4 linked regions of the Homo sapiens genome follow. The protein of the gene in region 2 interacts with the protein of the main gene of each other region in a pairwise test. Each region holds a gene or a part of one and is shown on either strand. Other genes may lie near its edges.

Region 1 (7,918 bases), on a different chromosome or scaffold from region 2:
GGTCTCAAGCTCCTGACATTAAATGTTCCACCTGCCTTGGCCTCCCAAAGTGTTGGGATTATGGGCCTGAGCCACCGTGCCCAGCCAATACTTTGGCTTTTAACCAGAACATTTAGTCTAATGCATTTAACGAATTTACTGCTATATATATATATATTTTTTTTTTTGAGACACAGTCTCATTGTGTCGCCCAGGCTGGAGTGCAGTGGTGCGATCATGACTCACTGCAGCCTCTGCCTCCCAGGTTCAAGTGATTCTCGTGCCTCAGCCTTCCTAGTAGCTGGGACTTCAGGCGCGTGCCACCACGCCTGGCTAATTTTTGCATTTTTAGTAGAAAGAAGATTTTATCATGTTGGCCAGACTCGACTCAAACTCCAGACCTCAGGCGATCCGCCTGCCTCAGCCTACCAAAGTGCTGGGATTACAGGCATGAGCCACCATGCCCAGCCCATTTTTCCCACTATACTAGTTTGAAAGTTAAATTCTCTTTTCCTATTAGTATTATTTTAGTGATCTCCCTAGAAATTACCACATGCATTCTTAACTTACCAAAGTGTCATGCTCATAAATACCTTTACGGAAGGATAGAGTTTCCTGAGATGGAGGCAGGAAGAGAGAACATTCCAAGCTAGATGAACAGGGAAGCAAGCAGATGAACAGGGGAAGATTTAATTGCTATCTGAGTCAGAGTGAGGCTAGAGCAAGATGAGTGAGCTGGGGGTGGGTGGTTTAAAGCCATCCAGGAAGGATGTCTTGGTCATGAAAAAGATCTTTGAGAAGAACAAGAATAACTCCTCCTCAACCCAGGAAGGACACTGATTTTCCTGAGGCTTCCCAGGAGGCAGTGGCAGAGCTTGGTCTAAAGCTGGATGTCTTTAGCAGTCTATGTCCCTGCCTCTATACCTACCCCAGCCATGCTCACTGTGTCCCCTTTCTAGCAATTCCTCAATCTCTGCTTACCTGTCTAAATACTGCCCATTCTTCAAAACCCAGTTCCATTAAATCAACCCAACAAATATTTTCTTTTTATTTTTGTATTTTGTATTTTTATTTTTAATTTGTATTTATTTATTTTTTTGAGGTGGAGTCTCGCTCTCTCACCCAGGCTGGAGTGCAGTGGCGCAATGTTGGCTCACTGCAACCTCCGCCTCCTGGGTTCAAGCAATTCTCCTGCTTTAGCCTCCCAAGTAGCTGGGATTACAGGCGCCCGCCACCAGGCCTGGCTAATTTTTGTATTTTTAGTAGAGATGTGGTTTTGTCACGTTGGCCAGACTGGTCTCGAACTCGTGACCTCAGGTGATCTGCTCACATCAGCCTTCCAAAGTGCTGGGATTACAGGCGTGAGCCACCGCACCCGGCCCAAGAACTCTTTTTATTTCTTTTATCTTCCCTCACATAAATCAAGGTAGGCGAGGTCTTTCAAACTGATAGTGAAATAAAGAGATTTCAGAAAGGGTCGGTGACAGCCAAGGTCAGACAATACAAAAAAAGTTCAGGACGAGTTCACACTGTGGCTGACATGTCTAATCATAATGACCATCATGTACTGAGTACCTCCCACATGGCTGGCACACTGCTACATTACCTCTAATACAACAACCCTATGATGTGGATATTCTTTTTTTTTTTTTTTTTTTTGAGACTGGGTCTTGCTCTGTCACTCAGGCTGTTGTGGAGTGGTATGATCTCAGTTGACTGCAACCTCTGCCTCCAGGGTTCAAGCAATCCTCCCACCTCAGCCTCCTGAGTAGCTGGGAATACAAGTGTGTGCCACCACACCCAGCTAGTTTTCTGTATTTTTTGGTACAGATGCTGTTGCCATGTTGCCTAGGCTGGTCTTGAACTCCTGGGCTCAAGTGATCCTCCTGCCTTGGCCTCCCAAAGTGCTGGGATTACAGGTGTAAGCCACCACACCCAGTGTGGATATTCCTAAATCAATTTTACAGGCTGGGCACGGTGGCTCATGCCTGTAATCCCAGCACTTTGGGAGGCCAAGGAAGGAGGATCGCTTGAGCCTAGGAGTTCAAGACCAGCCTGGGCAAGACAGTGAGACCTTTTTTTTTTGAGACACGGTCTTGCTCTGTCTTCAGGCTGGAGTGCAGTGGCGCGATCTCGGCTCACTGCAACCTCTGCCTCCCAGGTTCAGGTGATTCTCCTGCCTCAGCCTCCCAAGTAGCTGGGACTACAGGTGCGCGCCATCACGCCTAGCTAATTTTTGTATTTTTAGTAGAGACAGGGTTTCACCATGTTGGCTAGGATTGTCTCGATCTCTTGACCTTGTGATCCGCCCACCTTGGCCTCCCAAAGTGCTGGGATTACAGATGTGAGCCACCACGCCCCCGCGAGACCTTGTTTTAAATAAATAAATAAAACCATTTTATAGACGAGGAAACAGAGGCTCAGGGCTATATGGAGAATTGCCCATATTTCCCAAATCACCAGAGAATTAAAGAATTAATCTAAATTAGAGCACCTCAAGGTTTGGGCATTGGGGGTAGTCTAGAGGCAGGGAGAGGGGACCCAGCCTCAGGGAATGGTACTTAGGGCCAAGAGAACAGACAAGGTGTCAAGATAGGGAACAATAGCCAGGAGCAGACACCCCTGGTTGGAGCTAGACAAAGAGGATGACATGAAGCCCCAAGGCAGAAAACCTGAATCTAGTTGCCAAATTTGGAGAGAGGTAGTTCTTTTTGTAAAGTTTTGCTAGTCCATTTGTCCTGGGACCTTAAAGAACAGGATAGGGGAGAACTCAAAATCAAGAAAAGTAGTTTTTAGAACAAGACACTCTGAGTGCGCACCTTCTCCAGACTTCGGAGCCCCTCAGAGTGCGTCTGAGGTATCTCTGGGTCCTCCACCATTGCTCCACATGAGGCCTGTCAAAGAGAGGGCCTAGACTGGGTGAATGAACAAAAGTGAACACATGAAAAAGAGCTCTGGCAAATTAATCAACAAATGCTAAGTGGCATTAACAGCATATAGTGGATTATGTGAATTATCTCAGGTACCAGACTTGAGTCCTGGTTCTGGCATGTATTAGCTGTGTAAGTAGGTAACTTGGTTTCCCTGTTTTCCATTGTAAAATGAGGATATTAAATAGTATCTACTGGCGGAGGCTCATGCCTGTAATCCCAGCACTTTGGGAGGCCAAGGCAGGTGGATCACCTGAGGTCAGGAATTCGAGACCAGCCTGACCAATATGGCGAAACCCCATCTCTACTAAAAGTACAAAAATTAGCCGGGCATGGTGGTGCCGCCTGTATTCCCAGCTACCCGGGAGGCTGAGATAGGAGAATTGCTTGAACCCGGGAGGTGGAGGTTGCAGTGAGCCGAGATCGTGGCACTGCACTCTAGCCTGGGTGACAGAGTGAGACTCTGTCTCCAAAAAAAAAGAGAGAAAGAAAGAAAAAAAAAAGGCCAGGCGCGGTGGCTTACACCTGTAATCCCAGCTCTTTGGGAAGCCAAGGCGGGGGCAGATCACGAGGTCAGGAGTTTGACACCAGCCTGGCCAAAATGGCAAAACCTCGCCTCTACTAAAAACTACAAAAATTAGCTGGGCGCAGTAGCGGGCGCCTGTTAATTCCAGCTACTCGGGAGGCTGAGGCAGGAGAATCGCTTGAACCCTGGAAGCGGAGGTTGCAGTGAGCCGAGATCGTATCTATTTTCACAGGTTTTTTTTTTTTTTTTTAATGGAGTTTCGCTCTTGTCGCCCATGCTTGAGTGCAGTGGTACGATCTCAGCTCACTGCAACCTCTGCCTCCCGGGTTCAAGCGATTCTCCTGCCTCAGCCTCCCAAGTAGCTGGGATTACGGGCGCCCGCCACCGTGCCCGGCTAATTTTTGTATTTTTAGTAGAGACGGGGTTTCGCCATGTTGGCCAGGCTGGTGTCAAACTCCTGACCTCAGGTGATCCGCCCGCCTCGGCCTCCTAAAGTGCTGGGATTACAGGCGTGAGCTACCGCGCCTGGCCCTCACAGGGTTTTTATGAGGATTAAATAAATGAGATAAGAAGTAAGAGTGCCTGGGATATACTGGGTGTTCAGAATGTGTTATTGCTGTGAGGATTTAAGTGGAAAAGTGCGATGTTAGGTATGGCTAACTTAGAGGTCCTCCACCCGCTGCAGATGCTCTGACTACCCACCAGTGTGCTTGCAGGAGGAATTCTTGGTCCCTTCACCCTCCTTCCCTGTTGGGCTGGGATGGTCTTTGCAAAGGGAGCCAGGGGTCCCCCTCAAGTTCTTTCATGGGTCAGTCATGGTCAGGGTAGGGAGGGAACTCTGGCAGCTGGTTTTGGGGGATCAATCCTCTCATTGTGGGGAGACCCAAGGCTGGTGGCTGGAAATCCTTTCTGCGCTACGTAGGACAGGGCGCCCTCTCCTGAACAAAGGCGGGAACAGCTCTAGGCCAGAGTTTCTGGGATGTGCCTCACCGGGTCTCACTGCCTGCAAAGGTGCTCTTCCCATTGCTGAAATGTCCCCAACCGCCCTGACGAGCAAAGTTTGGGGGAGGGGCGCCAGGGCTGGGAGGAAACTGGCTTAATGTTTCAGAAGGGCGAGGCTGGATAGTTCGGTTAGAATGGAGGTGCGAGGCAGGAGAGACGGGCGGATGAGAAAGAAATCCGGCCCCTGTTGAATTAATTTTGTGTTCTTTCAACAGGTAGATGGAACGCAGCTGAGAGGTAAGGCGACAAGGTGGCTTATCCAACATGCTCAAACTCAGGTATCCAGAGCTCTTCCGGCTGCCCTCACGCAGCCGAAATTAGTGGGGGCAGACCCGGGCTGTAAAGCATGGTTTGAGGACACGCCAGATTGAGGAGGAGAGCCAGGGGTCGGGGTCTCCAGAAGCGGGGAGGAGCCAGCGGAGGATCTGGGCGCAGTTTCCTCTCTAAGTTCCGCCCCGAGAGCGCCGGCCCCGCCCCCGCCGTTCGCGCTCTGACCAGCCCGCAGAGCCAGCCCCCGACCCCGGGCCACCTGGGCCCCCGGGTTCCGCCGGCACTCTCGCCACCACCGCGTGGGTGAGTATGGGCATGGATGTGCTGGGCTGCCGGGCAGCCCCACTCGGGAGCTTGGCCGCGCGGTCTGGCCTCTGCAGGGCCGGGCCCCACGCTGTGGGAGTCCTGGTACCTGCCGTCCTATCGCACACACTCTGTTTCCCAGGAACTGCTGCTCTCTGGACTTGCCGAGCTGGCCCCCTTCTTCTCCCTCCCCAGCGTGGGGCCGGGTGTGCAGGGGTTGAGCTCTCCCTTTATTCCGCGGGGCCTCCTGGTCAGGAGTCCTAGGTGGGGAGGATGGGGCCCCGGGGTTGGAACCCCATAGAGTAGTTTTGAATGGCAGCTGTGCCATTTATTAGCCTTGGCCTTGAGTAAGTGTTTTGAACCTCCCTGAGCCTCAGTTTCCTCATCTGTAAAATGGAAATATACAGGCTGTAGCACCTACCTCATAGAATTATGGTGAGATTAAAAGAGACAATGTATATCAAGTACAGAGCAGGGGGCCTAGTATTCCGTAGGCACTCAGTAAATGTGGGTTCAGACTCGAGGCTGAGGAGATCTCTAGGGACTTTGGAGCTGAGGTAGCTCCAAAGAAAGCAATTTTCAGCTAAGTAGTACCTGTGAGGAATGTAGAACTATCTGCAGGCTGAACAATTGCCCTTCAGCTCCACCCTGAGGTGTGGAGTAGAATGACCAAGTTGGAAGGACCTTAGAGGTAATCTAAACCATGTGATTCCCATGTTGCAGAACTGTGGAAACAGATCTAGAGTGCTTAAGTGGCTTGCCAAAGGTCACACAGCTAAATGGGAGGCCAGGCATACCTCCAAGAATTGGAATGGATTATCCCTTGAACCTCCTCATCAACTCCTGATTTGGGCAGTGCCTCTTCATTCCCTGAAGATCTAGTCTTCAATTTGGGAATCCTAGTGGTTCCTCAGGGATCTAGAGCTGCAGCCTTCAGGGAGGGATACTGGGAGGGAAGACTAGTGCTACTGCAACTGCAGAGTCTAGGTTTGGGCTGGGTGAGGAAAATGTTCCCCATCTAGGGCCCTAAGGGACTTAGAGTCCATTTAGGGATGATCCAGGGAATGTGTTTTTTTTCTGGGAGGGTCACCAGAGCCACTTCCAGCTCCCTGGGATCCCTGATGCTCCTAAAAGGGAGAGAGGAACTTGAGCAATTGGAGCAGGCTGCCTGATCAGGTCTGGCAGCTGGGGGAAAATGGGTGAGAATGTGGAGGCGTAGCCACCTGGCTTGTTCTGGAATGCCAGGATGGCAACCTAACTGAGATCAGGGTTCTTTTTGAGGGTGGGACTAAAGGGAGAGTCTTGTGGGTGGGGTCAGGAAGAGTTGGGACTTGATTTGACAAGGTCTTTGAGCCCAGAAGGGTATATTCTTTATGTGTCTGGAGCCAGCCCTAGCTTGGCAACAACAAGCCAACGTTCCAGGGATGGCTTTCCCTTCAGCTCAGCACAGGGCTTTGAGGAAGAGCCAGCCCTTCTCTCTCTCTGAGTGTCTTGGTTTCTCTATCTTTACAATGGGAATAGGGCTAACTGCCTCATCTATGTAGATTTTGGTTTTTCCTTTTCTTCCTCCTGTGAACAGGTGCCTCTTCTGCCTCTCTCACTCCAGTCCTAACCTGACCTTTCTCAAGTTCAGACACAGAGAGGAAGGGGTCAAGGAAGGCCAGAGTTGCAGTGTGTAACTCTTCGTGGGTCCCACATGTATCTCTTTGTTATGTGATCCTGAGCAGATTCCTGCTCCAACTTTCCCTTCTGTATACTGTGCGGAGCTGGGCTAGGATTGTTGGTATACACTTATTTGTTATAGTTCCTGACCTTAGCTACCCTTATCTAAGGGGGAAATCACAGCCCCCAGGAACCCTCATCTGTTCACAGGAGGGTGATGTGGACAGCCCCCTGGGCACTGGGAAGCCTCCAGAAGCTGACCAAGCAGCTCTCTCCAGCAAACAGCAATCCCAGGCTAGCACCAGGCCTGATTCTGCAAAGCCTTTCACCCTGGGGGCACGTGAGGGAGCAGGCTGGGACAAGCAGGGGGCTTGGGGTTCTGTCAGCTTCCATGGAATCCCTGCCACTGTGGACTGCGGTGCAGGCACACAGAGCCTGGGAAGGGACTGAAGGTGCAGGAGGGCCCTGGGCCAGTGGGGAAGCAAATGAGAGCTGATGAGAGGCCTTGAAGCCTGGAGGCTGGGCCGAGGCTCAAAGGCCTGGGGGAGGAGATGGGCCATGCCATCCACTGGTAGGTTTTAGGGTTGGTTCTTGAAATAAAGAGAGACACTTATTTAAAGCAGCTTCTCTAGTCCTAGGCCTGTCAAGCTAGGCAGAGAGGAGTGAGGAGAAGCTCTCCCAGTCCATTCAAGCTTTATCCTAGCACAGATTTGGTTCATTGTCTTCCCTCTGAAATTGAGGTGGAATGTTGTCTTGGGATTCTGAGTCAGTCTTCCTCATCCAGGGCAAGAGCTATCCAAGTTTAGGTGCCTTCCTCCTCAGACTCCCCACCCCACAGCACACAGCTAATTTTAGGACTGAGCACAAGGGCTGACTTTATCACTGAGTGCCAGCCTGGCTGCCTGGGGCCCTGACAGCATGCCACTCCATCCCCAGGTCTGACAAGATGTACCAGGTCCCACTACCACTGGATCGGGATGGGACCCTGGTACGGCTCCGCTTCACCATGGTGGCCCTGGTCACGGTCTGCTGTCCACTTGTCGCCTTCCTCTTCTGCATCCTCTGGTCCCTGCTCTTCCACTTCAAGGAGACAACGGCCACACACTGTGGGGTAGGGCATGGGGACACTGATACCTCATATTCAGGCCGATCTGGATCTTCTTTAGATCTTGAATATCTTTTAACAAGATTAGCCAGCTCTCCACTGGGGCCCATCAAACATACGGGGCTGCTGGGGGGATGCCTG
Region 2 (7,018 bases):
CTCTCTGTTGCCCAGGCTGCAGTGCAGTAGTGCCATCTCAGCTCACTGCAACCTCTGCCTCCCAGGTTCAAGCAATCTCGTGCCTCAGCCTCCTGAGGAGCTGGGACCACAGGTGTGCGCCACCACACACCGCCCAAGTCCACTGATCTTTCCACTAAACCACAGGCACCATTTGGGGCCTGGGTTTGCACCAGGGAAATGTATCTGTAAAGAAGTTTCCCCACTTGAACAAGCAGACTTCACGGTGGAGTTAGTGATCCAGGAGCATGGACTCTGATCCCCACGCTGGTGCTAGCGGAAATGATTTTACAGAGAGGACTGTAATTATTAGTGTTACTGAGCATGCCCAGCTTGAATGCTGGAGTAAAAAGGGAGAAGGCATCATCTCAGTAGGCATGATGAGCTCAGAGCCCCTGAAGTTGCCAATGCCCGGGATGTGCTGAGTTCCTGTACCACACGGAGCAGGGCCTATTACAGTCTGCCATCCAGATAGGCCTAGGGCAAAGCCCCTTGGGAAACAATCCCAGATGACCCTGAAGGCACAGGCTCCAACAGACATCCTCCCTGCAATGAGCAATGCTGTGCTGTGCCGCTGGTCTGGGAATCCCAAGGGGAATAGGAGGCCTGACCCAAAGGCACCGTTGGTCTGGTAGAGAGATTAGACGTGGCACACAAAAGTTAAAAGAAAGGCAAATATGGTCATCGCCATATGAGTGGAACAAACAACCAGAAGAGTTCAGAGGAGGGAGAGGTTAGTTCTGCCTAGGATAAGAGGAGGGTGCTTGGAAAAGGAAGGTAGGAACGATCAGAGAAAGTAGCAACTGAGCTAGCCTTTGAAGGAGGGTAGTACTGACCCAGAGTGGATGGCGAGAAGCTTACTAAGGGGAGTAGAGGAACATGAGGCAGGAACCACCAGAAGCCAGATGGCTGGCAGCTTTAAATGCCATGATAAGATCTGTTTTTTTTTTCTCTCTCTCTAATTTTTTAGAGACAGGGTCTCGCTTTGTCGCCCAGGCTGGAATGCAGTGGTGCAATCATGACTCACTGCAGCCTCGAACTCCTGGGCTCAAGTGATTCTCCCACCTCAGCCTCCTGAGTAGCTGGGACTACAGACTTGCGGTCTGTTGGTTGTGCAGGCTGGTCTCGAACTTCTGGCCTTAAGTGATCCTCCCACCTTGGCCTCCCAAAGTGCTGGGATTACAGGTGTGAGCCACGGCACCCAGCACATTTGACATTTTTATGCAGTGGGCAAGAGGAAGCCACCGACGTCTTTTTCATCAGGGAAGTGTGATGATGAAAACTCAACTTAAGATCACTCACCTAGCCTCAGAGTAGAGGATAAATAAAATTCGAAGACTAGAGATAGGTCAGCTAGTTAGGAGGCAATGGGCCAGATAAGAGGTAATAAGACCTGGGCTAGAACAGTAACAGCAGCAAAAGAAAGAGGAGACAGATTTCAGACACGCGGCACAGAGGCAGGGTCCAGGTGAGCTGGCAACTGATGGGCAGTGGAGGATAAAGACAGGGAAGAATCAAAGATGACTCAGAGGTTTCAAGCTCTGGATGACTGCAAGGACAGAGGCACCATTACAGAGAGAGTTCAGGGAGAGAGGCTGGTTTGGGATTGCAGTTGATTATTTCAGCATTAGCTCTTTCGGTTGAGGTGCTAGCAGAACTTCTAGATAGAGGTTACAGGAAGCAGATGGAAAGTCAAGAGCTGTGGAAAGAGGACAAAACTAGAGAAATAGATGTGGTATCTATCTGTTCAGGGGTCAATTCCACAAGTAAATGGGCTTTCCAAGAAAAATACTAAAAAAAAAAAAAACTTCAGGAAAACTTGCATTTAGGCATTGACCAAATAGTTGCATAAATCTGGCTTTAAATAGACAGAGGTCCAAGAACTGAAAACTGGAAGCTATGAAAGCCACAGGGACAGGGGCAAGGAAATGCATCAGGGAAAGGGAGGTATTGCTAGGTACCTGTCTGTGTCTGTTACATACACACAAATGCGCGCGCACACACACACACACACACACACACCCCTCTATATTTTCTCCCGTGACCTCAGGGAAGTATTAGGATAGCACCAACCATGTAGTAACCTTAGAAATGGAGAAATGAAAACTCTGTTTCTTAACCTCATAGAGAAAACATCAAGGCCCCTTTCCTCAAAGGCAGGTTCCAAGCCCTTGGATAAACCTCTATCCTGGGCATGAAAAAGATAGCAGGAATTCAGATGAGGCAGTCAGCAAAGAGAATGTCAACTCCTCCCCCCGCAGGAACTCCCCTTGCAGAGCTCCACCCTAGGCCAAAAACCAGAGCCCTCCCTTCTGCCATGGCTCCTCAGCACTGGAGGGGACGAGGCAATGCCTTGGCTTCTGAGGGATCAAGCCTTTCATAACTGGATGACAGCCCTTTAACAACTGGAGCTCTGACTGGGACATGGCGGGGTGCATACTCAGCAATCAGCTGCACCCACATTAACTCAACTGCCTGTGACCTTCAGCTCCACACCCTGAACCAGCAAATTCCCAAAAGCCACAGCCCGGGGCCTTCCACAGCTCTAACTGTGAGGCCTGATAATCACGCCCAGTCACCCTCTAGGGCTCAGAGCCCTCTCCCCTCTAAACCCACCCCTCCCAGGATAGGGGCAAATTTGAGATGTTTATCTTCATATAGCTCACAGAGAAACTGAGGCAGAATCGGGGAGAGGGGTAACAAGATTGGAACGCAGAAATCCTAACTCTTAAATCATGTAATTCACCCACTAGATGGCAGTATCTCCTAAAAACCGCCCATAAACCATAATAAGGGGTGAAAATGCCTTTATGTAATAATAGCCAGCATTTAAGCGGCATCCACTCTCTGCTAGGCATTTGATCCAGATTATATCATGTAGTCATCGTAACAATTCCACGAGTTAGACTCTATTGCTATCACCACTTTATAGCATTTGCCCAGTGCCAAAAAGCTAGCAATAGACCCTATGCTCTTAACTATCATACTTTCGTTGCCTCTCAATTGATCTGTATTTTTAAACATGTAATATATACTCAAACCTTGAAATAATCTACAATTTTTCTTTTAAAGACTCCAAAAGTCATTCACTTAGAATTCAGAGGTCAGTAAACTTTTTTTTTTTTTTTTTTTTTTTGAGATGGAGTCTCGCTTTGTAGCCCAGGCTGGAGTGCAGTGGTGCAATCTCGGCTCACTGAAACCTCCGCCTCCTGGGTCCCAGTTCAAGCAATTCTCCTGTCTCAGCCTCCCAAGTAACTGGGATTACAGGCACGTGCCACCATGCCCAGCTAATTTTTGTATTTTTAGTAGAGACAGGGTTTCACCATGTTGGCCAGGCTGGTCTTGAACTCCTCGTGATCCATCTGCCTTGGCCTCCCAAAGTGCTGGGATTACAGGCGTGAGCCACCGTGCCCGGCCAGCAAACTTTTTCTATGAAGGATTAGATAGTTCTGTTTGAGGGGGCCATATGATCTTTGTCCCAACTACCCACAGTTCTGCCATCACAGTGAAAGTAGCCATAGACATATGCAATGAATGGGCACTGCTGTGTTCCAATAAAACTACAAAACAGGTGGGCAGGCCAGATTTGGCCTAGGACTGCCAACCCCCAGACTTAGGCCATCGTACGTGACCTTGCAAGAGCTTGGTGAAGCAAGATTAAAACAAGTGAAGCAGCCAGGACTCACCATTTGCCCGAGGTTATCCAAGCAATTCGCATTGAGTCAGAATTAATGTCAGGTCTCCCCACTCCCAATCCTGTGTCCCACTTTACGTATCAGCACAGAGGCATAGAGAAGATCAAAGCCCGGAAACCCTAGATGTGTGACTTGGTAGAAAGAGTAACAGATTGATTGTTGAGAAATCTGAGTATAGTCCAGACTCTTCTACCAATATTGCTATGTGACCTTCAGTGGTCAATTGTCTCCATTTGAGGGCCCAATCTCCTCATCCATAAAACAAAAGAGGTATGCCTAGCTCTAGGTGACGCCTTAGGCCAAGGAGCTGTGACACTGTCTGGCTCTGCTTGGTGATTTGCCCTGCCCCACCCAACACTCACTTGACAGCAGTGGTGAGGCGCAGGGGCCTGACGCCGGGCGTGGCAAAGCGCAGAGTGTTCATGTAAGCCACATGCTGCAGGGCATGGTTGAAGGTCTCCACATCATCCCCCTCCAGGGTGAGCAGGGACTGTGAGGGGTTCACGTGGACCTGGGCCCCAGACACAGATACAGCTGAGAGCAGGGCCAGGAGGTGGCAGAGGAAGGGAGCAGAGGTAGAGGGGTAGGGCAAGGGGGTGGGGCAAGGGGCATGCTGGGAAGAACAGGGCTAGAGGATGGGGCAATACCTTCATGCCTTTGCCCAGGCTCTCGAAATCCCTATAGTCCAGCCCCTCCCGACATGCATAGAGGCACTCGATGACCTCGCGGCTCTCCAGGCGACCTGAGCGCACGCTGAAACCAGCCAGGTAGCCATGGAAGTAGTGGTGGATCGACAAAGGGTCTCCTAGGGTAGGAACACAGGAGCAGGACGGGAGGTGAGAAGAGAGGAGGATGGAAAAGGACGAAGGCTGAGAGAAAGGGAAAGGAGAGAAAGAGCAGAAGAGTTGAGAAAGAAAAAAAGGAGAAATGTGGAAACCAAAAAAAAAAAAAAAAAGGAAAAAAGAGAGATGAGAGGTGAGGGAGAAGTGAAGGTAAGGGGGGAGGCTAGAGAAGGGAGAAAATGAGACAAAAGAAGACAGAATAAAGCCAGGGGAGAAGAAGAAGGGTGAAAAGTAGAAGCAACAAAGATGAGAGGGAGGAAGAGAAGGAAACAGGACCAACAGGAGGAAAGAGTCAAAACAAGGAGGGAGGGGGAGGCGGCAGGAGAGAACGTCTTTCCAGTGACATGCAGGGAGACCAGGATGGATGTGAGCGAGCTTCACAGATGCCCAGACCTTCCCCTTCTGCGTGTCTGACTCCTGACTCCTGCCACCTCCCTTCTACCATGTGGAAAGCCACCAAGAGAGCCCCATTCTTCATTCTGTGGGCAGGACAGGATACCCAGAACCCAGCCAAGCTGCCTCTAGCCTTACCACTCCAGGAGCCCCTGCCCTGCTGTATTTCTTGGAGGCTCTGCCCCCTGGTGGCCTAGGAGGCTGTCACAGGCTGGATAGGATTTGGGGTGGAAAAGGGATCTCAGAACAGAAAGTGAAGATGAGAACTCTCTGGTCTCCAGTTCTTACACACGGAGTACCTTGGGTGGTGTCTGTACTGTTGTCTCCCTTTTCCTTCTCTTTGTTCTTCTCCTCTGGGGATAAAAAAAAAAAAAAAACAGTGCTGGTGAGCTCAGGGATGTGGAGAGATTGACAGAGAGGAATGAGATGTCTTCCTCTCATCCCCATGAGTGCTCTCATGCCCACATGGGATTCTGACCCTGCCCATGTATAACTTGCAACCTCTCAGCTCAGCCCCAACCCTTCTTTTGTCATGTTCCAACCTCTCCAGCCTCTATTATAGACAAACCCCCAAATACGATATGCTGCTGAGGAAACACGTGGGCTCTGGTAAGACAGACAGGCACATGTGCACACACACACTCCCAAGAGGAGAAAAATTTTTTCAATGGCTTAAAAGTTGGAAGACCGAGGACACTCTAAGGGGTTACTCTCCTTGAGCAGGGGAATGGGCTATGGAAGTCATCATCACTTTGATGGAAAAAAGTGGAAACTGGCTGGAGTTACAGAGAGAGAGTCTGGGGATGCGTGAGAAGTTAATTCCTCCAAGTCAGAGGTGATGACCCATTGGATTAGTGGGAGATACGGGAGGGAGGCTGTGGTCCCTTCCCATGGAGATCTTCAGAGTCACCCTGCACAGCTGCAGAGAGATGCAGGAGGCGGCCTCAGCTGCTGGGTCAGACTGCCCTTGCTCCTCACCAGCCTACCTCCCTTCCCAAATCCTGAACCACTGGAGTCTTCACTGAGAAGCTTACCAGTCCAGCAGGCCCCAATCATGAGAGCAGGCTCCCTTCGGGGTGGGTGGATGAGGCCATTGTCATGGATGAGGGCAGGGTCGAAGGAGATGCCGTCGGTATAGAGTGTGACTGTGGGGAACTCGAGGTTCAGAGCGTAGTGGTGCCACTCATCATCACAGACCTGGGAGAGTAGGGTAGGGGCAAGAGCCTCTCAGGTAATTCGTCTTCAGAGAGCTAACCCTAGGCACTGCCCCATCTCCTGGGAGACAGGGGACAGTCCCTTTATTCCCAGTTCTACCAACAGGGCTTACTAGTGCTTTGCTGCCTATCCAGCTCGAGGAATAACATCCTTGTCCAAAATCTATCAGGCAACCAACCTAGTAGCAAAGATTCCACTCTTCAGGTAAATCGTTAAAGCTATAAATATTCCTAAGAGGAGTAACACACTTTCATGAATAAATTCCCTGCCCCCCGAACTTATGTATTACATATGTGTGTAAGGCACTGGAAACTCTAGAGATGGGGTTTCCTTCTGTCCCCCAGGCTGGAGTGCAGTGGTGCAATCATAGCCCACTGAAGCCTCAAACCCCTCGGCTCAAGCAATCCTCCCACTTCAGCCTCTGGGGTAGCTGGGACTACAGGTATGTGCCACCATGTCCAGCTAATTTTTTTATTTTTTAGAGATGAGCTATCACTATGTTGCCTAGGCTGGTCTCCAACTCCTGGCCTCCAGTGATCCTCTCAGCCTCCCAAGTAGCTGGGATCACAGGTTATCTCTAGGATAGCTTCTAACCCAACATTAAGCACTAAAATAAATATTGCTTCCCTTTGCAGTCTCTCCTAGGGCCAGCCAAGATGGAATGGGGGATGGTCAGAGGAAAAAGGGGCAGAGAGTACTCTGCCTCATCCAGTTCCAAATGTTGGGGTCCCTCAAGGCTCAGACCTAGGCCCTCTTCTCTTTCCTCTCTACACTCTTTTCCTAGAAGTCACCTCATCTGTTGCCATGGGTTTGGGTACCATAGTTATACACTGGTAACTCCAAAATCCACATCTC
Region 3 (7,760 bases), on a different chromosome or scaffold from region 2:
CCTCCTCCTGTAATTGAGATGTCCACCTTCTGCCTCATTCCCTCCCAACCTGGACACCTGGCATTGCAGGGCTCTCGATGGAGACAGCTGATTTTGCCCTGCTCCTCCCGAGCCTCCTCCATCATGAAGACATAAACTTGGTGTGTCAGACAGATAAATGAGCACTCTCTCACTACCCCCCTTTCTTCTCCTTCCTGTCTCCTTTTCTCTCTTCTCCTCTCTGCCCTCTCCCTCCCTCCTCTTCTTCCTCCCTATACCCCCTCTTTCTCCTCCCTCTGCCTCCTGCGTGCTCTGAGATGAAAGGGCCAGTTAATCTTGCTGCCACCGCTTCCACAGGGCTGGGTACTCGCTTGTCCACAGGCACAGGCGTCCCTACCAGGACTGCCTAAACGGTCCCTGGAAACCATGGCTAATTGGTGAAAGAGCCCATTGGTTCATTCTTCCACAGCCTGGATACTGCAAAAGAGGCTCTCCCAAGCTAACCCAAGATTTCCACCCTGATGCACCAATCACCTGGGAGACCACTGGGTTTACTTGTCACCCAGACCTGTAGTTTCTACCTTGACATGTGAGCTTGGAGGCTGAGCATACCTGCCCCTAATCACACACACCCCCTCCAGCACGACAAACAGCAGAGTGCCTGAGGGCATTTGATTAATGTGCTGCAGGCTTACAAGTTTATGCATATTATATTTATTCATTCAACCAATGTTTACTGAGCACCTACTACTATGTGCCAGACACTGTTATAGGCACTTGGGATATAGCAGTGAATAAAGCAGTTCAAATCCTACTCTCACGGAGTTGAGAATTCAGTGGGGAGAGACAGACAGTAAACAGACAAATATATACCTGTCAAGTGGTGATAAAAGTTGTTGAAGACAAAGCAGAGTAGACAGGATGCAGAGTGCAGAGCACAGCAGTTTTAGGTAAAGGGAGATCCTTCAGGTCTGTTACTCTGGGGGAGTATGTTACATACCTGCTTCCTTTATGCAACTGACATGTTCCAGAAAAGTTAAATATCGATGAGATATGTTTTGCATATTAAATCATATTTCAAATCAAACATAGTCAAGCCTTGCAAATTAACATGCAGCAAATCTCTGAACCTCAGTTTCCCCATAAGGAAAATGGGTTTGATAATTCTCACCCCAGCTAGTTTGTGCTGTTGAGAGAGATTCATGGGATGAAATTTTAATTTTGTGGATGACTTTGTAGCCTGCAAAGCACTTTATTACATCAAAGTAATGTTATCGTTGTTAAAATGAAGACATAGTTAGCAAAGTAAATTACCACCTCCAAATAGAAACTCTGTGATAATCCAATTTTCATGTATTTAGTTGGCTAAAATGAAGATTACACTTGCATGTTTTCCAAATCTGGGCAGGCAGGGATGGCATCTTTGTAAGCCTTCCCAGGCTTGGGAAACACTCTGTGGTTATCCCTGGCTATGATCTGCTGTCAGCGCTAAAGAGCATCCTGACCCAAGCCTATCTTCACCTTGATCTATCTGAAATAAGAGCATAAGAATGAAAGAAAACCACCACCAGCCTTCTTAGGTGCAGCTCCTTGCATCTTGGAATAGTCTCCATCCAAAACATTTGGGGCATTATAGGCCTGACAGACATGGAGGCGGGGTTACTCACTCAAGGCAGAAGCTGCTTGCTACATGGATTTCTCTCCTTGTAATACAACACTCTGAAGCAAAGTGGAATAATTTCCACTTGAAAGGGAATTCATTTTATTCAAATAACACCACCAAATAGCAAGATTGAGGGCGCATATCTCCAGGAAAGGGCTGGACAGCAATGAGATGCTTATCTGTGCCCCTGTCCCCATGGGACTGCCTGCAGGTACAGTTATGGCTTAACTATAGGAATCTACAGCAAGAGCAATGGAGAGTGTGGTTTATAAATCATTTCTGTCACTGTTTATGGAGGATGAGATTAGAGTCAGGGTGGGTGGTGGCAGGTTGCAAGATCAATGGCAAATGTGTCCTCAGCAGATATTTCTCTTTGAGACAGAGTCTTGATCTGTCACCCAGGCTGGAGTGCAATGGCATGGTCTTGGGTCACAGCAACCTCTGCCTCCTGGGTTCAAGCGATTCTCCTGTCTCAGCCTCTTGAGTAGCTGGGATTACAGGCACTGGCCACCACGCCTGGCTAATTTTTATATTTTTAGTAGGGACGGGGTTTCCCCATGTTGGCCAGGATGGTTTCGGACTCCTGACCTCAGGTGATCTGCCTGCCTCAGCCTCCCAAAGTGCTGGGATTACAGGTGTGAGCCAATGCATCTGGCCCTCACCAGACATTTCAAAGACCTCAGAATATAGCTCTTCCTTTCACAGACAGACCAGTAGCAATTCATCGATCAAGAGACTTTTACTCAGTGTCAACTCTGGGCAAATCATCCTATTAGGAAATATGGAAGAAACCCCAAAACATTTCCAACATAGGCAAGGAGCTCTCATTTTAGTTGGAAAGTGAAGAGAGTCCTGTGGTTGAAAAGAGGAGCCCTAAAGATGTGGGAGACGCTAAGGTGCTTAAATTACATGATCCCATTTGATCATCATCACCACAAATAACAGCAGCATTCTTATTCCCATTTTACCGATGAGAATACTGAGAGCAGAGAGGTTAAATGACTAGCAGCTCATGGTCACACAGCTGGTAAATGGCAATAAAATGCTCATTCTTAGTCTGCTTGACTCTCATAGGGCCAGAATCCAAGTGAAGTTTTCATATTGATTTTGCCTCCCTATTGATTTTGTCAGGGATAAGCATAAGTTTTAGAAAAACAAAATGACATTTGCCGTGCTTCCCTTCACTCCATTCCTTAAGGGGAGCTGAGGAACCACTAGCTTTAGATCTGAAGCTGTAATGTCCTTTTCTGTTGATAAACGATATTTCTAAATAAATAATCGTCCTTGTCCATTTGTGTTTCCACGACCAGATCTCCTTTTCCTGACTGAATACTCCCTTCCCCCACTAACATCTTCCCACGTTCGCTTAGCTTCTTTCTCTCTTTCCCTTTCCTCATACACACAGATTCAGACACACACCTTCCCACCTCACACCCATATGCAAAATAAAATTAGAAATACCACCCGACTCACAAGGTATTTGGGGAATGGAGATCTTCAGTCAGTATACCCAAACCCAAGCACCCCAGCCAGCCTCCCTCCCTGCCAAGCCCATGTGAGAGGCAGACAGAGCTTGTGAAAAGGGGCCCAGACGGCCACGATTATGAGACAAAGCTGCTCTGAAGGGAAAAGGGCCATGTGTGCCTCCCCATGTCTGTCCTGTGGCCACTGGAACTCACAAGGCTACCAGCTGCTCACGGCCACCATGTGGCATATACTGTTCTTTCACTTACATGTCAGATCCTTTTAGAATGTGAAAAGGTTTCCTGGCCTCTTTTTTATTTTGATGTATGCTGATAAATTACAGAGGAAACAGTGTGTGGTTATTCAAGAATAGAGGCTGAGCTGATCAGCATATGGCCCTCATTTCAAGGGATTGCTCTTGTTTTAATCAGCCAGTTGAGAAAGCAATAAATGTTTATTTATTAAGTATGCCATCACCGAGAGGAGAGGAACAGGGCAGGTAGGTGAGCTGCGACACCCAGGAAATTGAGGATGGTGATGGCACCAATATTCCTGCAGTGTTTGATGTTTTTAAGGCTCTGCTCCCCCCACCCCCCACTGTTTGATACACATTGGTGTCACTACCCTCTTGGCGCATCACAGTACCCACCTTAGAATAGCGGAGCCCTGGAAGGGGAAGGAAATAGAAATAAGAAGGTGGGGGTGAGGCTCAAAGAAGAAGCTCCAAGTTCAAGCTCTGTGTCTGGATAAACTCCCATTGTCTTTCCTTCTCTCAAATCAGAGCTGCCCGTGGGTCCCAGGGTGATGCTGGGCTGTGTAGAGGCTGAGTGCAGGAGCATTAATGCTAGAACCAGGTTCAAGTCCAGGCTCTGTCACTTAATGGCTGTATGACCTTAGACATGAGACTTAGCTTCTCTGAGCTTCAACCTCCTCATCTCCAGAATGGGGCTCAGCCAGCTTCACAGATCAGGCTGAGAGGATTAAGGAAGCATCTTATGCTAAAGGCTTAGCACAATGCCTGCTACCTAGTAGGGGCCCGATAAGTAGTGTCTAATTATGATCTAATCAAGCAGTGCTTGCCCTGGGCAGGCCCTGTTTAAGGGTTTTACATAGATTGTCATTTAACCCTCATATCTCTATTTCACAGATGAGGAAACTGGAATCTAAGATCACACTGGAATTTACAGACGAAGAAACTGGAATCTGAGATCTCACAGTAGTGAATGGTGAATATTCAAACCCAGGTAGACAGGCTCCAGAGTCCCAACTCCCAACCCTCTGTACACAGCCCTTCCGAGGAGATGACGCTGATCTTCATGGGTGTTGCCCTGGCAAGCTGACCTCTCAAGCCCCCAGGGTTCCTTCAGTCCGAGTGGAGAGCAGGGAAGGTCGTGGGACCTAGCCGAGAGGGAAGGGCAGGATGATGGCTGGAGAATCCACATCAGGGCTGAATCCCAATCTCCCAGCTGGAACGGGCGCTGAAACCAGGCAGGGCGCCCCAGCCCGCTCAAGGGGAATCGAGAGGGGAGGAGGGGGCAAGTCCACGATGCTGAGACTGGCGGCCAGAGCACCGCCCCCAGGAGCGGAGGGAGGGGTGGCGGGGCTGGGGGGTGCCCAGCTGCCATCCCCGCCGCTTCCTGGCCCTTACTCGCTGGCGCCCAAGTGGGAAGCCAGCAGCTGCCCGCTCCCTCCTCCCCACATCCCCGCTACTTGCCCAGTTCCCGAAGCGAAGCGCAGGCTGCGAGCCAGCCGGGCCGAGTCCACAACTTTGCAGCCTCGGGCAGGGCGAGAGCCGGCGTCCGGGGCTCCTCTTGTCGGCGACCAGAGCTCGGTGAGTTGATTTCCTCACCCCTCTGCGACGGCGGCAGTGCGGCGGCGGCGGCGCGGGGGGCGGCTTCCCGTGCGTCCGGGAGGCAGTGGCCGAGAAGCCCGCGGCTGCCGGCGCTGCCGGTCTTTCCAAGGCTCCGGCTGTGCCGCCCTCTGCCGCGGGCGAGGCGGGCGCCAGGGCTGAACGGACAGCTCCCTACACCCCGGGGCCCCACGGGCGGTCTCTGCTGTCCCTTCTCCCGCGCAGGGCCAGGGCTGAGGCTGCCTGCCGAGCGCCCCTCACTCCCCTAGCCCCTGTCCTTCGCCGCCTTCCCAGCGCTGCGGCGCATCTGGCTGCTCCCGCGCCCCCCTGGCGACCGGCGCCGGGAAGGCACTTGCTTCGCCGGAGCCCCAGGCCGAGGGCTCTCTGGGGTGGGCAGCACCGCCGCAGCCCCCGGCGGCGCAGGACTGGGGGCGTGCCCAGCCCCCGGCGACCACCCTCAGGCGTGCACTGCGCTGCGCCCCAGCGGTAGGGAGAGGCCCACGCTCTCCGCGGAGGCTGCGGGTTCCCGGGGGGCGCTGGGACCTGCAAAGGGGATTCCAAGGTGACCAGTCGACCCGTGCGGACGGGACAGCCTGGACGGAGGCCCCGTGGCATCCACCCATCCTAGGTGCAACCGCCTTCCCAGAACTTTTCTCGCGCCTCCGGCTGGCCGATTCCTTAGCCCCTGGAAAAGTTCTCTCGGGCGCACGGAATCCTATTTCTCGGTGGCTTCCGAAGCTGGCCAGGAACCCCGGCTGTGAGGCGTGGGGTGGGATGGGGACGTGGTGAGGGCTGAGCACGGCGGCGGGGTCGATCCCAGGAAAGGCTGGCCAAGCATCCACTCGTGCGCCCAGGGCGGGCTTGTCGGCATGGAAAGGATTTCGGCGCCATGAGGGTTGTTTGGGTTTCTCTCAGCAGGAGGGCGGGAGGCGGGCGCGAAGGGGGGATTTTAATTTCGCCTCAAATGAAAACGCTCTTCGCAAAGAAATAGCCCGGGCAGCCAGCGTTGGAGAGATGTGCTGGCCAGGACCCGCTGACACAGGTATTCTGGTTGCGCCCCCACCTCACCCGGTGCCCGAGAGCGAGTGTGAGTGTATCGATTGTTTCAATTGATTTTTTTAAAGCTAGATAGCAGAGGCTGCGTGTCTGTACACGCAGATATATACATACACAAATACAGATACTCAAGCGCACACAGATTACACGTACAGAGTCACAGACAAGGACACACACACACACATCGTGGTCCCTCACGCACACATACCTCCAAAGAGCCTTGGGTAACCTGGTGAGGTCCCTGAGTGCTGCCCAAGATGTGTGTGTGGGTGGGGACGCAGGGACGGAGAAAGGGGAGTGTGAAGCAGGATTTCCAGCAGGTCAAGTGCCGCTGATTCTCCTGCCCCCGACCCCAAATCCTTCCCTTTCTCCTCCTAGGGAGGTCTGAACCAGAAATCCCAAACCTGGGCTTGTTTCCACATCCACAGAGGGGAGGAGTCCTATCCCCCGGTGCCCCCCACCCTCACAACTCCTAAAGACTGCAAACGAGTCCCTCCCTCCTGTGCCAGACTCTGCCGCGCCAAGGCGCCGAGCTCGCTCAAAACCCCAGGCAACACTCACCCCCAGGTGGGGCCTAGACCCGAGGCCGCTGCGGGCTCGGGTCTCTGGCCTGCCTGATCCGGGGTTAGGGAACTGGGGAGGGGAAATCCGCGGGACAGGGGGTTGGGGGCGTGGAGTCGCGTGCAGTGCCCCAGACGCGCGGCACGGAGGAGCGGGCGAGGGCGCCCCCTGGACGCCGTAGTCAGTCAGTCCTCTTCTCACCCCGGGCCCCGCAGGAATGTAATCGAGGATGCTGGCCCTGCGGCTGCTCAACGTGGTGGCCCCCGCCTACTTCTTGTGCATCTCCCTGGTGACCTTCGTGCTGCAGCTCTTCCTCTTCCTGCCCAGCATGCGCGAGGACCCCGCGGCCGCCCGGCTCTTCTCGCCCGCCCTGCTCCACGGGGCGCTCTTCCTATTCCTCTCGGCCAACGCCCTGGGCAATTACGTCCTTGTCATCCAGAACTCCCCAGACGACCTGGGGGCCTGCCAGGGGGCCTCGGCCAGGAAGACTCCATGCCCCTCACCTAGCACCCACTTCTGCCGAGTGTGCGCCAGAGTCACCCTGAGGCACGACCATCACTGTTTCTTCACCGGCAACTGCATCGGCAGCAGGAACATGCGCAACTTCGTCCTGTTCTGCCTCTACACCTCCCTGGCCTGCCTCTACTCCATGGTGGCCGGCGTGGCCTACATCTCCGCTGTCCTTTCCATCTCCTTCGCCCACCCCTTGGCCTTCCTCACGCTCCTGCCCACCTCCATCAGCCAGTTCTTCTCCGGTGAGTGGGCCTTGGCGGGCAGGTTGGGCTCTACACAAAGACCTCCCACCCCAAAGGTTGCCGGGCCCCAAACCCCAACCCCAAAAGTTGCCAGATTTAGCAAATAAAAATACAGACCGTCCCGCTAAATTAAAATTTCAGATAAACAACTCATAATTTTTTAGTATAATTATGTCCCAGATATTGTATGAGATACACTGAGAAAATTTGCTATTGGCTATCTGAAATGCAAATTAAGCGGACATGCTGTATTTTATTGGTAACATCCCCCCTTGCCCCCATCATTCTCATCCATCATGCTGTCCATATGCTCACAGAGTTGTGGCATCCAGGTAATACACCTGCTCTGTGCCAGGCAGGACTAGGTGCTGGCCATTCCTCCATGTAGCCCCATGAGGTACAACCATGCTATGACATTCCTCTGCCTGGTCCC
Region 4 (7,562 bases), on a different chromosome or scaffold from region 2:
TGAGGCAGGAGAATCACTTGCATCCAGGAGGCAGAGGTTGCAGTGAGCCGAGATGGCACCTGCACTCCAACCTGGATGATAGAGCAAGACTCCATCTGGAAAGAAAGAAAGAAAGAAAAGAAAGCAAGGAAGGAAGGGAGGAAGGGAGGAACGGAGGAAGGGAGGGGGAAAAGAAAGAAAGAAAGGCACAAAAAACTTCAAAAATGTGAACGGAGGTATACAGTCTCGCTCTGACGCCTAGGCTGGAGTGCAGTAGCACGATCTCGGCTCACTGCAACCTCTGCCTCCTAGGTTCAAGCGATTCTCCTGCCTCGGCCTCCCAAGTAGCTGGGACTACAGGCACTTGCCACCACATTGGCTAATTTTAGTATTTTTAGTAGAGATGGAGTTTCACCTTGTTGGACAGGCTGGTCTCAAACTCCTGACCTCAGGTGATCCACCTGCTTTGGCCTCCCAAAGTGCTGGGATTACAAGCATGAGCCACTGTGCCCTGCCTGATTTCTGCTTTATACTTTTCTGTTTTTCTCTCAGTTTTTCTACAATGGGTTTTTTTTCCAGACATGTAAAAGAATACAAAAATTAATGTAACACTCCTATTCACACCATCTAGAATCCATAACTGTAAACATGTCATATTTGCTTTAAAAAAAAAAAACTTTAGAGCTATAGTGAAAGTCTCCTTTAACTGCCTCTTCTTCTCTCAGACAAGCATGGTCAGTTGGTTTTTAGTTTTATATACAGGTATATACATACATAAACTAGAATCTGGTACAGTTGTGTGTGATGGCTTTACTTACATGGAGGAACAGTTCTTAAAATCAGGGAGGGATGGCAACCTTCTTTAAATTGAGGAGGGGATGCACAAGGACTGGCAGCCTGAACCCACCTTCCCAGCTAAGCAGCCCCCTGGGAGCCCCTGCCCTGGGGAGATCCAGCTCCCAGCTAAGTGCACGGGCCACACCTGGTTGTTAAATGTACCAGGAAGATAATTGCTATTTGTATTTCTCTGGATAGCTTCCAATGAACTTTCATATCTCGCAAGTCATTGATGGCTCAAAAAATCTGGGAAACCTGGAAAGAAAATCATTATCCCCATTTGACAGATAGGGAAACTGAGGCCCAGGAAATGGCAGTGAGCTGCCAGGATATCACAGTGAGTTGATGGAGGATAAGGAACTAGAGCTCAGACCTGGAGTTCTTTCCAGAACCTCAGGCCAGCATGCAGAGGGGTGGAACAGAGGCCAAGGCTTGCCAGGTAGCTGGCACTGATGGACTTTGGCCACATGGCAATGAGGAAAAGAAGTGGCAATAGCTTCAGACCACTGAGGTTGGCTGACGGCTGGGAAATTATGGTCTGGAGAGAAGCAGGTGGAAAGTTTTCCTTCCTCAGAGGTCCCAGAGGGCAGGCACACTCCTGGGGACTGTGGCTCTCCCCACCCCCAACACACACACACTCAGAAGTCAGGAGCAGCCTCACAGTCAGACAGGTCCAGGTTCAAGTCTCAGCTTTACCACCAATATATGTTGTAGGGTCTTTAAAAAGTCCTTTACCTCTCTGGGCCTCAATTTTCTCATCTGTAAAATGGAGTGATTATCTTTAATTCTGTGTTGTTCCAAGGATAAAAGAGAATCATCATCTATGCATCTGGAAACAAAAGCATTTAAAAGGTCCCCAACCTAATTCCAGAAGGCTCCAGCAGGGGTTAGAGTAAAGAGGACTGCCTGACACTGACTGATAGAGAAGCCACATCCATGCACACACATGAGGTTTGACATCGGCTTTGCAGTGACCACCTGTGCTCTCCGGGGCAGCCCCTGGGAGATGGGCATTGGCATCACAAGCTGTTGGTGGAATGAGGGCAGGGCAGTGGTGATGAAGGGGCCCTTCCTTTCTTTTTATTTTTTCTTTTATTTTCTTTTTTTTTTTTTTTTTTTTTTTTTTGAGACAGAGTCTTGCTCTATTGCCCAGGCTGGAGTGCAGTGGCACAATCTCGGTTCACTGCAACCCCCGCTTTCCGGGTTCAAGGGATTCTCCTCCCTCAGCCTCCTGAGTAGCTGGGATTACAGGCGCCTGCCACCATGCCCAGCTAATTTTTGTATTTTTAGTAGAGATGGTGGTTTTGCTGTGTTGGCCAGGCAGATCTCGAACTCCTGGCCTCAAGTGATCCACCTGCCTTGGCCTCCCAAAGTGCTGGGATTACAGGCATGAGCCACTGCGCCAGGCCGGCCCTTCCTTTCTTTTCAACAAAACCAAGGCATGAATTCATTCTAATACTCCAACTTCAACCATACAGCCATGTGTAAAACAAAAAGCAAAATCCTTCCCGTCACTCTCCTGCATCGCTCTTGGTTATCACTTTGGTGCCATTGCTTGCTATTAGGAACAGTTTGTCCACAAACACCATTAGATGCATGCATATCTTTGCACTCTGGTGCGTAGGATAAAGATCTACAAATGGAATTTCTGGGCCACAGTTACAAGTGTCTGAACATTTTTTTTTTTTTTTGAGACGGAGTCTCACTCTGTCACCCAGGCTGGAGTGTAATGGCCCGATCTCGGCTCACTGCAAGCTCCACCTCCCAGGTTCACGCCATTCTCCTGCCTCAGCCTCCTGAGTAGCTGAGACTACAGGCGCCCGTCAACACGCCGGCTAATTTTTTTTTTTTTTTTTTTTTTTTTGTATTTTTAGTAGAGACGGGGTTTCATCGTGTTAGCCAGGATGGTCTCGATCTCCTGACCTCGTGATCCGCCCACCTTGGCCTCCCAAAGTGTTGGGATTACAGGCATGAGCCACCGCACCCGGCCACAAGTGTCTGAACATTTATAATATGAGTAAGTACTACCCAAATTGCCCTACTAAAAGATTGTCTGAGGACATCAACATTCCGATGCCAGCCCGATGTCTTCATAAACTGCCCCCATCTTCCCTTCCACCTGACAAATATGTCTCCCCACCCGGAATTCCCTGCACATTATCCCCCTTCAGACAGCAGGTGACAGGGAAGCAGCTCTGCTGGGGGGTTACCAGATGGGATGCCCCGGGGGGCTTCCTAGGAGAAATGGCTCCACTTCCTCCCATGGTGTTAATGCGTTCTCCAAACTCCAGAGGCTCTACATCTGACCCAACTGCCCAACACACACAGCGCCGCAGGTGTCAGCACAGGTGTGCAGAAAGACACACAGACAGTGGACAGCCCCCAGGACAGGCTCCAACCAAGCACCCAGAGACAGCCAGCCAGCCCCTGACCTCTGGGACACTGCCCAGTGGGGTAAGTGGGGCAAGCTGTGAACAGATGTTGCCCAGTTCCCATAGTAAGTGCCTCCAAGGACCGAAAGAGCCCAGGGAGGTGGCCACGGTGTGGCCACTCTACAGAACTTGGGCACAGAGACCCAAGGGGATTCCAGGCTCCTGCCTACTCCACCACTTCCAGCTGGTGGTCTTGGGTGAGTGGTCTGTGGTCTCTGAGCCCAAAGGTGCAGGAATGGTACCTATGCCAAAGGGATGCTGAGACTAACAAGGGACCTCACTGGGGTCCATCCTGACACATTAAAGGGCTCAGCAACCCAGAGCAGTACTAATAAAGCTCCTACTATGTGCTCTTGCTAGGTCTACACTTTGTCCATACAGACAGTCTGGAGAGTTTCCAAAGCGTGTTGTTGTTGTTTTGTTGTTTTGAGATGGAGTGGCGAGATCTCAGCTCACTGTAACCTCTGCCTCCCGGGTTCAAGCGATTCTCCTGCCTCAGCCTCCAGAGTAGCTGGGATTACAGGCTTGCCCCACCACATCCGGCTAATTTTTGTATTTTTAGTAGAGACGGGGCGGGGGGGGGGGTGCGGGGGTGTTTCACCATGATGGCCAGGCAGGTCTCGAACTCCTGACCTCAGGTGATCTGCTTGCCTAGGCCTTCCAAAGTGCTGAGATTACAGGCATGAGCCGCCGCGCCCGGCCGAAAGCGCTTTCTTACCTAATTTTTGTATCCTATTTTGTCTCACCACGACCTTCGGGGACAGGAATTATCCCTGATTTTCCAAGGACGGAACTGAAGGCCCTCCCGACTAAGAAGGAGACTTAAAGCGCCTTTTTCAGCGTGGAAGACAAGACTCGCGGGCGCTAAAGGCAAGCGCAGAGAGGGGAGGCGATTTGCCTGAGGTCACACAGCAGGCAGGGGCAGACCCCAATCCCCAGCAGCTCTTTCACTGCCCCTGCTGCCCCTCTCCGTCCCAGCCTTGGGCCCGGGGGCTTTCCGCCCAAGAGCCACACCCAAGTCACGGTAACCACAGCTACGCCGGCAACCCCCAACTTGCCGCGGGCCCGCGCGGGGCGGCTCCTCAGAGCCTCAGTTTCCCTTTCTAGAGCGGGCCCGCCGCCGCCGGTGGGCTGAGGGAGGGCGGCTCGGCGCCGGGCGGGCCGGGCGGGGCGGCGCCTGACTCAGCGGGCGGGCCATGGGCTGCTCAGCCGGTCCGACCGGCCGGGAGGGGCACGAGCCGCGGGGGCGCTGCGGGGCCGGGCGGCCCGGGGGGTGACGGGAAGGGAGGCCGGTCCGGCGCCGCCCAGCCCCGGGCTCCGGGCGGGAAGTGGGCGAGCGCGACGGTGCGGGGCGCGCGGGCGACGGGCCAGCGGGATGGGAGCAGGGTCCCCCGGCGGCCCGCAGCCTCGGGAGCCGCGCTGAAGCCGGGGGCGGGACCAGCGCGGAGCCGACATGTGTCTGCGCCTCGGTGAGCGACTGGGGGCGCGCGGGAGGCCCCGAACCACCCCAACCCTCCCACAGGAGCGGAGCACTGAGCCCGGAACCCGAGCCCCCAGGGGGCCAGGCCACCTGCTCTGCCTCTAACTTACTACGAGGCCGGGGTCGGGTCACTTTCCTCTCTGGGCCTCAGTTTCCCCAGCAGTGAAATGGAGGGGAGGAGCGCTGCGGGTGTCTTCTCGATGTGGCTGTAGCGTCTCTTACCCTCGCCCTCTCTTGCCTTTCCTGCGGAGGCGCACGACTGCCCTCGGGGACCCCCGGGTGGGCGGCAGAGGAGACGCTGGAGAGAGCAGCCCCATCTTACCCAGAAGGGACCCCGGGGCCAGGCCTCAGCTTCCCCACCCTTACAAGGGGCTCCCACTTACATACTCTCCACTCTCCCGAGGCCAGGAAGGAAAGCCGTGGGCAAAAAGGATCAGCAGCGGGGGAGCGGGACTAATGTGCCCCCTCCTTCCACTGCCTGGGCACGGTGATGCTGCTTGTGGGCAGCAGAGTCCTGGGGCATCCCCGCTGTCTAGCCGAGAGACCTTGTGAGCCTCAGTTTCTTTGTCTGTAAGAGGGGGACAGTAGTTCCCACCTCCTAGGACTACTATGAGGATGAGGGCAGCTTCTAAGAGTAAAGCGCTTAGCACCTTGCCGGCTGCGCTGCTATGCGCTCCCACAGTGGTAAGACAAATGAAGCCAGCTGGGCTTCATCTGGGAGGCAGCACTCTGGGAGGCCGAGGCAGGCGGATCGCTTGAGTCCAGGAGAGACTAGCCTGGCCAACATAGTGAAATCCGTCTCTACAAAAAATTTAAATAAAGAAAAAAAAATTTAGCCCGGCTACTCAGGAGGCTGAGGTGGAAGGATCACCTGAGCCCAGGAGGCAGAGGTTTCAGTGAGCCACGATCAGGCCAGTGCACTCCAGCCTGGGCTACAGAGTAAGACCCTGTCTCAATCAATTTAATTTAAAAAGTCAAGGACTGCTCCAGGCTCAGTCCAGTGCTCCAGGCACAGCCCCATGCTGGCACCGTGCCTCCTCTTTGACCAAAGTCTTGGTCCTGGGATGCTGTTGTTATTGAGTCCAGCCCTCAGCTGGAAGGTAGACACCGAGCTCCCAGGTAGGTGGGTGGAGGGGGTGAGGTGGGTCAGGCTCCTGCGCTGAAGCTGCCATGCCCCTTCCTGCTTGGCTGGCAGTCCATCTTCACAATGCTATTCCAGTCTCATGGTGCCTGTCCAGCCCATCGTCTGCCCTCTGCTTCTGCTAGACCTGGTTCAGCTCCAGAGGGTCCTGCAGTCTCCAGGGGTCTCAGACACTGGCTGGACCAATGCCTCCCCATTTTATAGATGTGGAACTTGGGGCCCAGAGGGGAGGGGCTGGTGCATGGTCACACAGCAAGTCTGTGACTGAATAGCCCCATCCCTTCCTGCTCCCTGGGGACTGTCTCTTGGCACAGCTTCAGACAGATGTCCCAGAGCGTCCAGTGTAGAGATTTCATTTTTTTTAGACGGGGTCTCTGGCTCTGTAGCCCAGGCTGGAGTGCAATGGCACGATTATAGCTCACTGTGGCCTCCACTTCCTGGGCTCAGAAGATCCTTCTGCCTCAGCCTCCTGAATAACTGGGACTAGAGGCATGCACCACCATGCCTGCCTAATTTTTTATTTTTATCTTTTTGGTAGAGATGGGATCTTGCTATGTTCATCAGGCTGGTCTTGAACTCCTGGCTTTAAGTGATTCTCCCACCTTGCCCTCCCAAAGTGCTGGGATTAGAGGCATGACCACTGTGCCCAGCCTCTTTTTTTCTTTTTTTTTTTTTTTTTCAGCTGCAGAGCTACCGTATATTAAATATGACCAAACCGCTCTACCACAGATGAGGAGAGGGAGGTCTAGGAAGGGACTCAGAGTCACATCCCATCAGAAGCAGCTAAAGAAGGGGATGTTTAGTTCTAGGGCCTGACCACAGTCTTCAAGTCTCAGAGCTGGCTCTAGTGAGGGGCTGGCAGGGCCAGGGGGTGTGGTGTGTCTCCTTGAAGGCAGAGCTAGGACTTATGGGCAGATTTCAGACAGCAGGTCGGGAGCCGGCATGTGCAGGTAGGGCTGGGCAGCCACTTGGCCACTGAGAGCATCTGAATGAGTCCCAGTGTTCTTTTGATCCCAGCTTCCCCCACTCACTCCATCCTGCCAGGTTCCCCCTGCACTGAGAGCTTGCTTTTCCCAGTACCCTCAGGGTACACCACACTTTCCCATCCACTTCCTCATGGACCCACTGAGAGACAAGGTTCTTCTTCCCATTTTACAGATGGGGACATGGAGATTCAGAGCCTTGAGTTACCTCCCCAAGTCACCTGGCTCTGGGCAGTTCAGTTCAGCAGCAGTGTCAGCATCTGCTGTGTACCAGGCCCTATCCGTGAATCTGAGTACCAAGCAGGGCCCAATTCCTGCCCAATGAACTCTGGCTCCTTGTGGCCTGGAGAGTGACTGTGGAGCTCACCGTCGTACCCCAGGGCCTGGCACAGAGCAGACACTCTGTGAACATGTGTAGTGAACACACGAATCAGTGAATGGGTAGCTTAGTGGGAGGATCTCGAAGTCTAGAGCTAGAGACCTGAGCTAGCGCCCCCCACTCATGACCTTGAACACTAACAAGTGCTACTGCTAAGAGCTACCTGTGTGCTTGTCCAGCCTTAGAGTCCCAAGGATTCTCACAAAGGCATCCCGAACCCCTTTTATGGATGAGGAGACCAAGGCTCAAAGAAGACAAGTTACTGGCTCCAAGTCATTCAGAAATACATTTAGAACCCAATGTCCATCACTAGGGCCAGGGCCTCAGCTTC

What was found.
Region 1: the proteins of CLSTN3 (region 2) and PGAP2 interact in binary tests that used the Homo sapiens proteins (3 or more experiments, as listed by UniProt).
Region 3: the proteins of CLSTN3 (region 2) and ZDHHC22 interact in binary tests that used the Homo sapiens proteins (3 or more experiments, as listed by UniProt).
Region 4: the proteins of CLSTN3 (region 2) and TMEM54 interact in binary tests that used the Homo sapiens proteins (3 or more experiments, as listed by UniProt).

Annotation. Positions count from the first base shown.
Region 1 is NC_000011.10:3,803,642-3,811,559, forward strand, and holds the start of PGAP2 (acyltransferase PGAP2), read left to right. Parts: upstream 1-4,918; 5' UTR 4,919-5,010; intron 5,011-7,523; exon of another isoform or gene 7,524-7,608; coding exon of another isoform or gene 7,609-7,618; coding exon 7,619-7,783; exon of another isoform or gene 7,784-7,915; intron 7,916-7,918.
Region 2 is NC_000012.12:7,140,369-7,147,386, reverse strand, and holds part of CLSTN3 (calsyntenin-3 precursor), read right to left. Parts: intron 6,146-7,018; coding exon 5,983-6,145; intron 5,302-5,982; coding exon 5,248-5,301; intron 4,519-5,247; coding exon 4,361-4,518; intron 4,225-4,360; coding exon 4,076-4,224; intron 1-4,075. UniProt on the Homo sapiens protein: Postsynaptic adhesion molecule that binds to presynaptic neurexins to mediate both excitatory and inhibitory synapse formation.
Region 3 is NC_000014.9:77,138,780-77,146,539, reverse strand, and holds the start of ZDHHC22 (palmitoyltransferase ZDHHC22), read left to right. Parts: upstream 1-4,748; 5' UTR 4,749-4,937; intron 4,938-5,795; exon of another isoform or gene 5,796-5,997; intron 5,998-6,787; 5' UTR 6,788-6,801; coding exon 6,802-7,327; intron 7,328-7,760. UniProt on the Homo sapiens protein: Palmitoyltransferase that could catalyze the addition of palmitate onto various protein substrates and be involved in a variety of cellular processes. Catalyzes the palmitoylation of KCNMA1, regulating localization of KCNMA1 to the plasma membrane.
Region 4 is NC_000001.11:32,898,378-32,905,939, reverse strand, and holds the start of TMEM54 (transmembrane protein 54), read left to right. Parts: upstream 1-4,550; 5' UTR 4,551-4,701; coding exon 4,702-4,717; intron 4,718-7,562.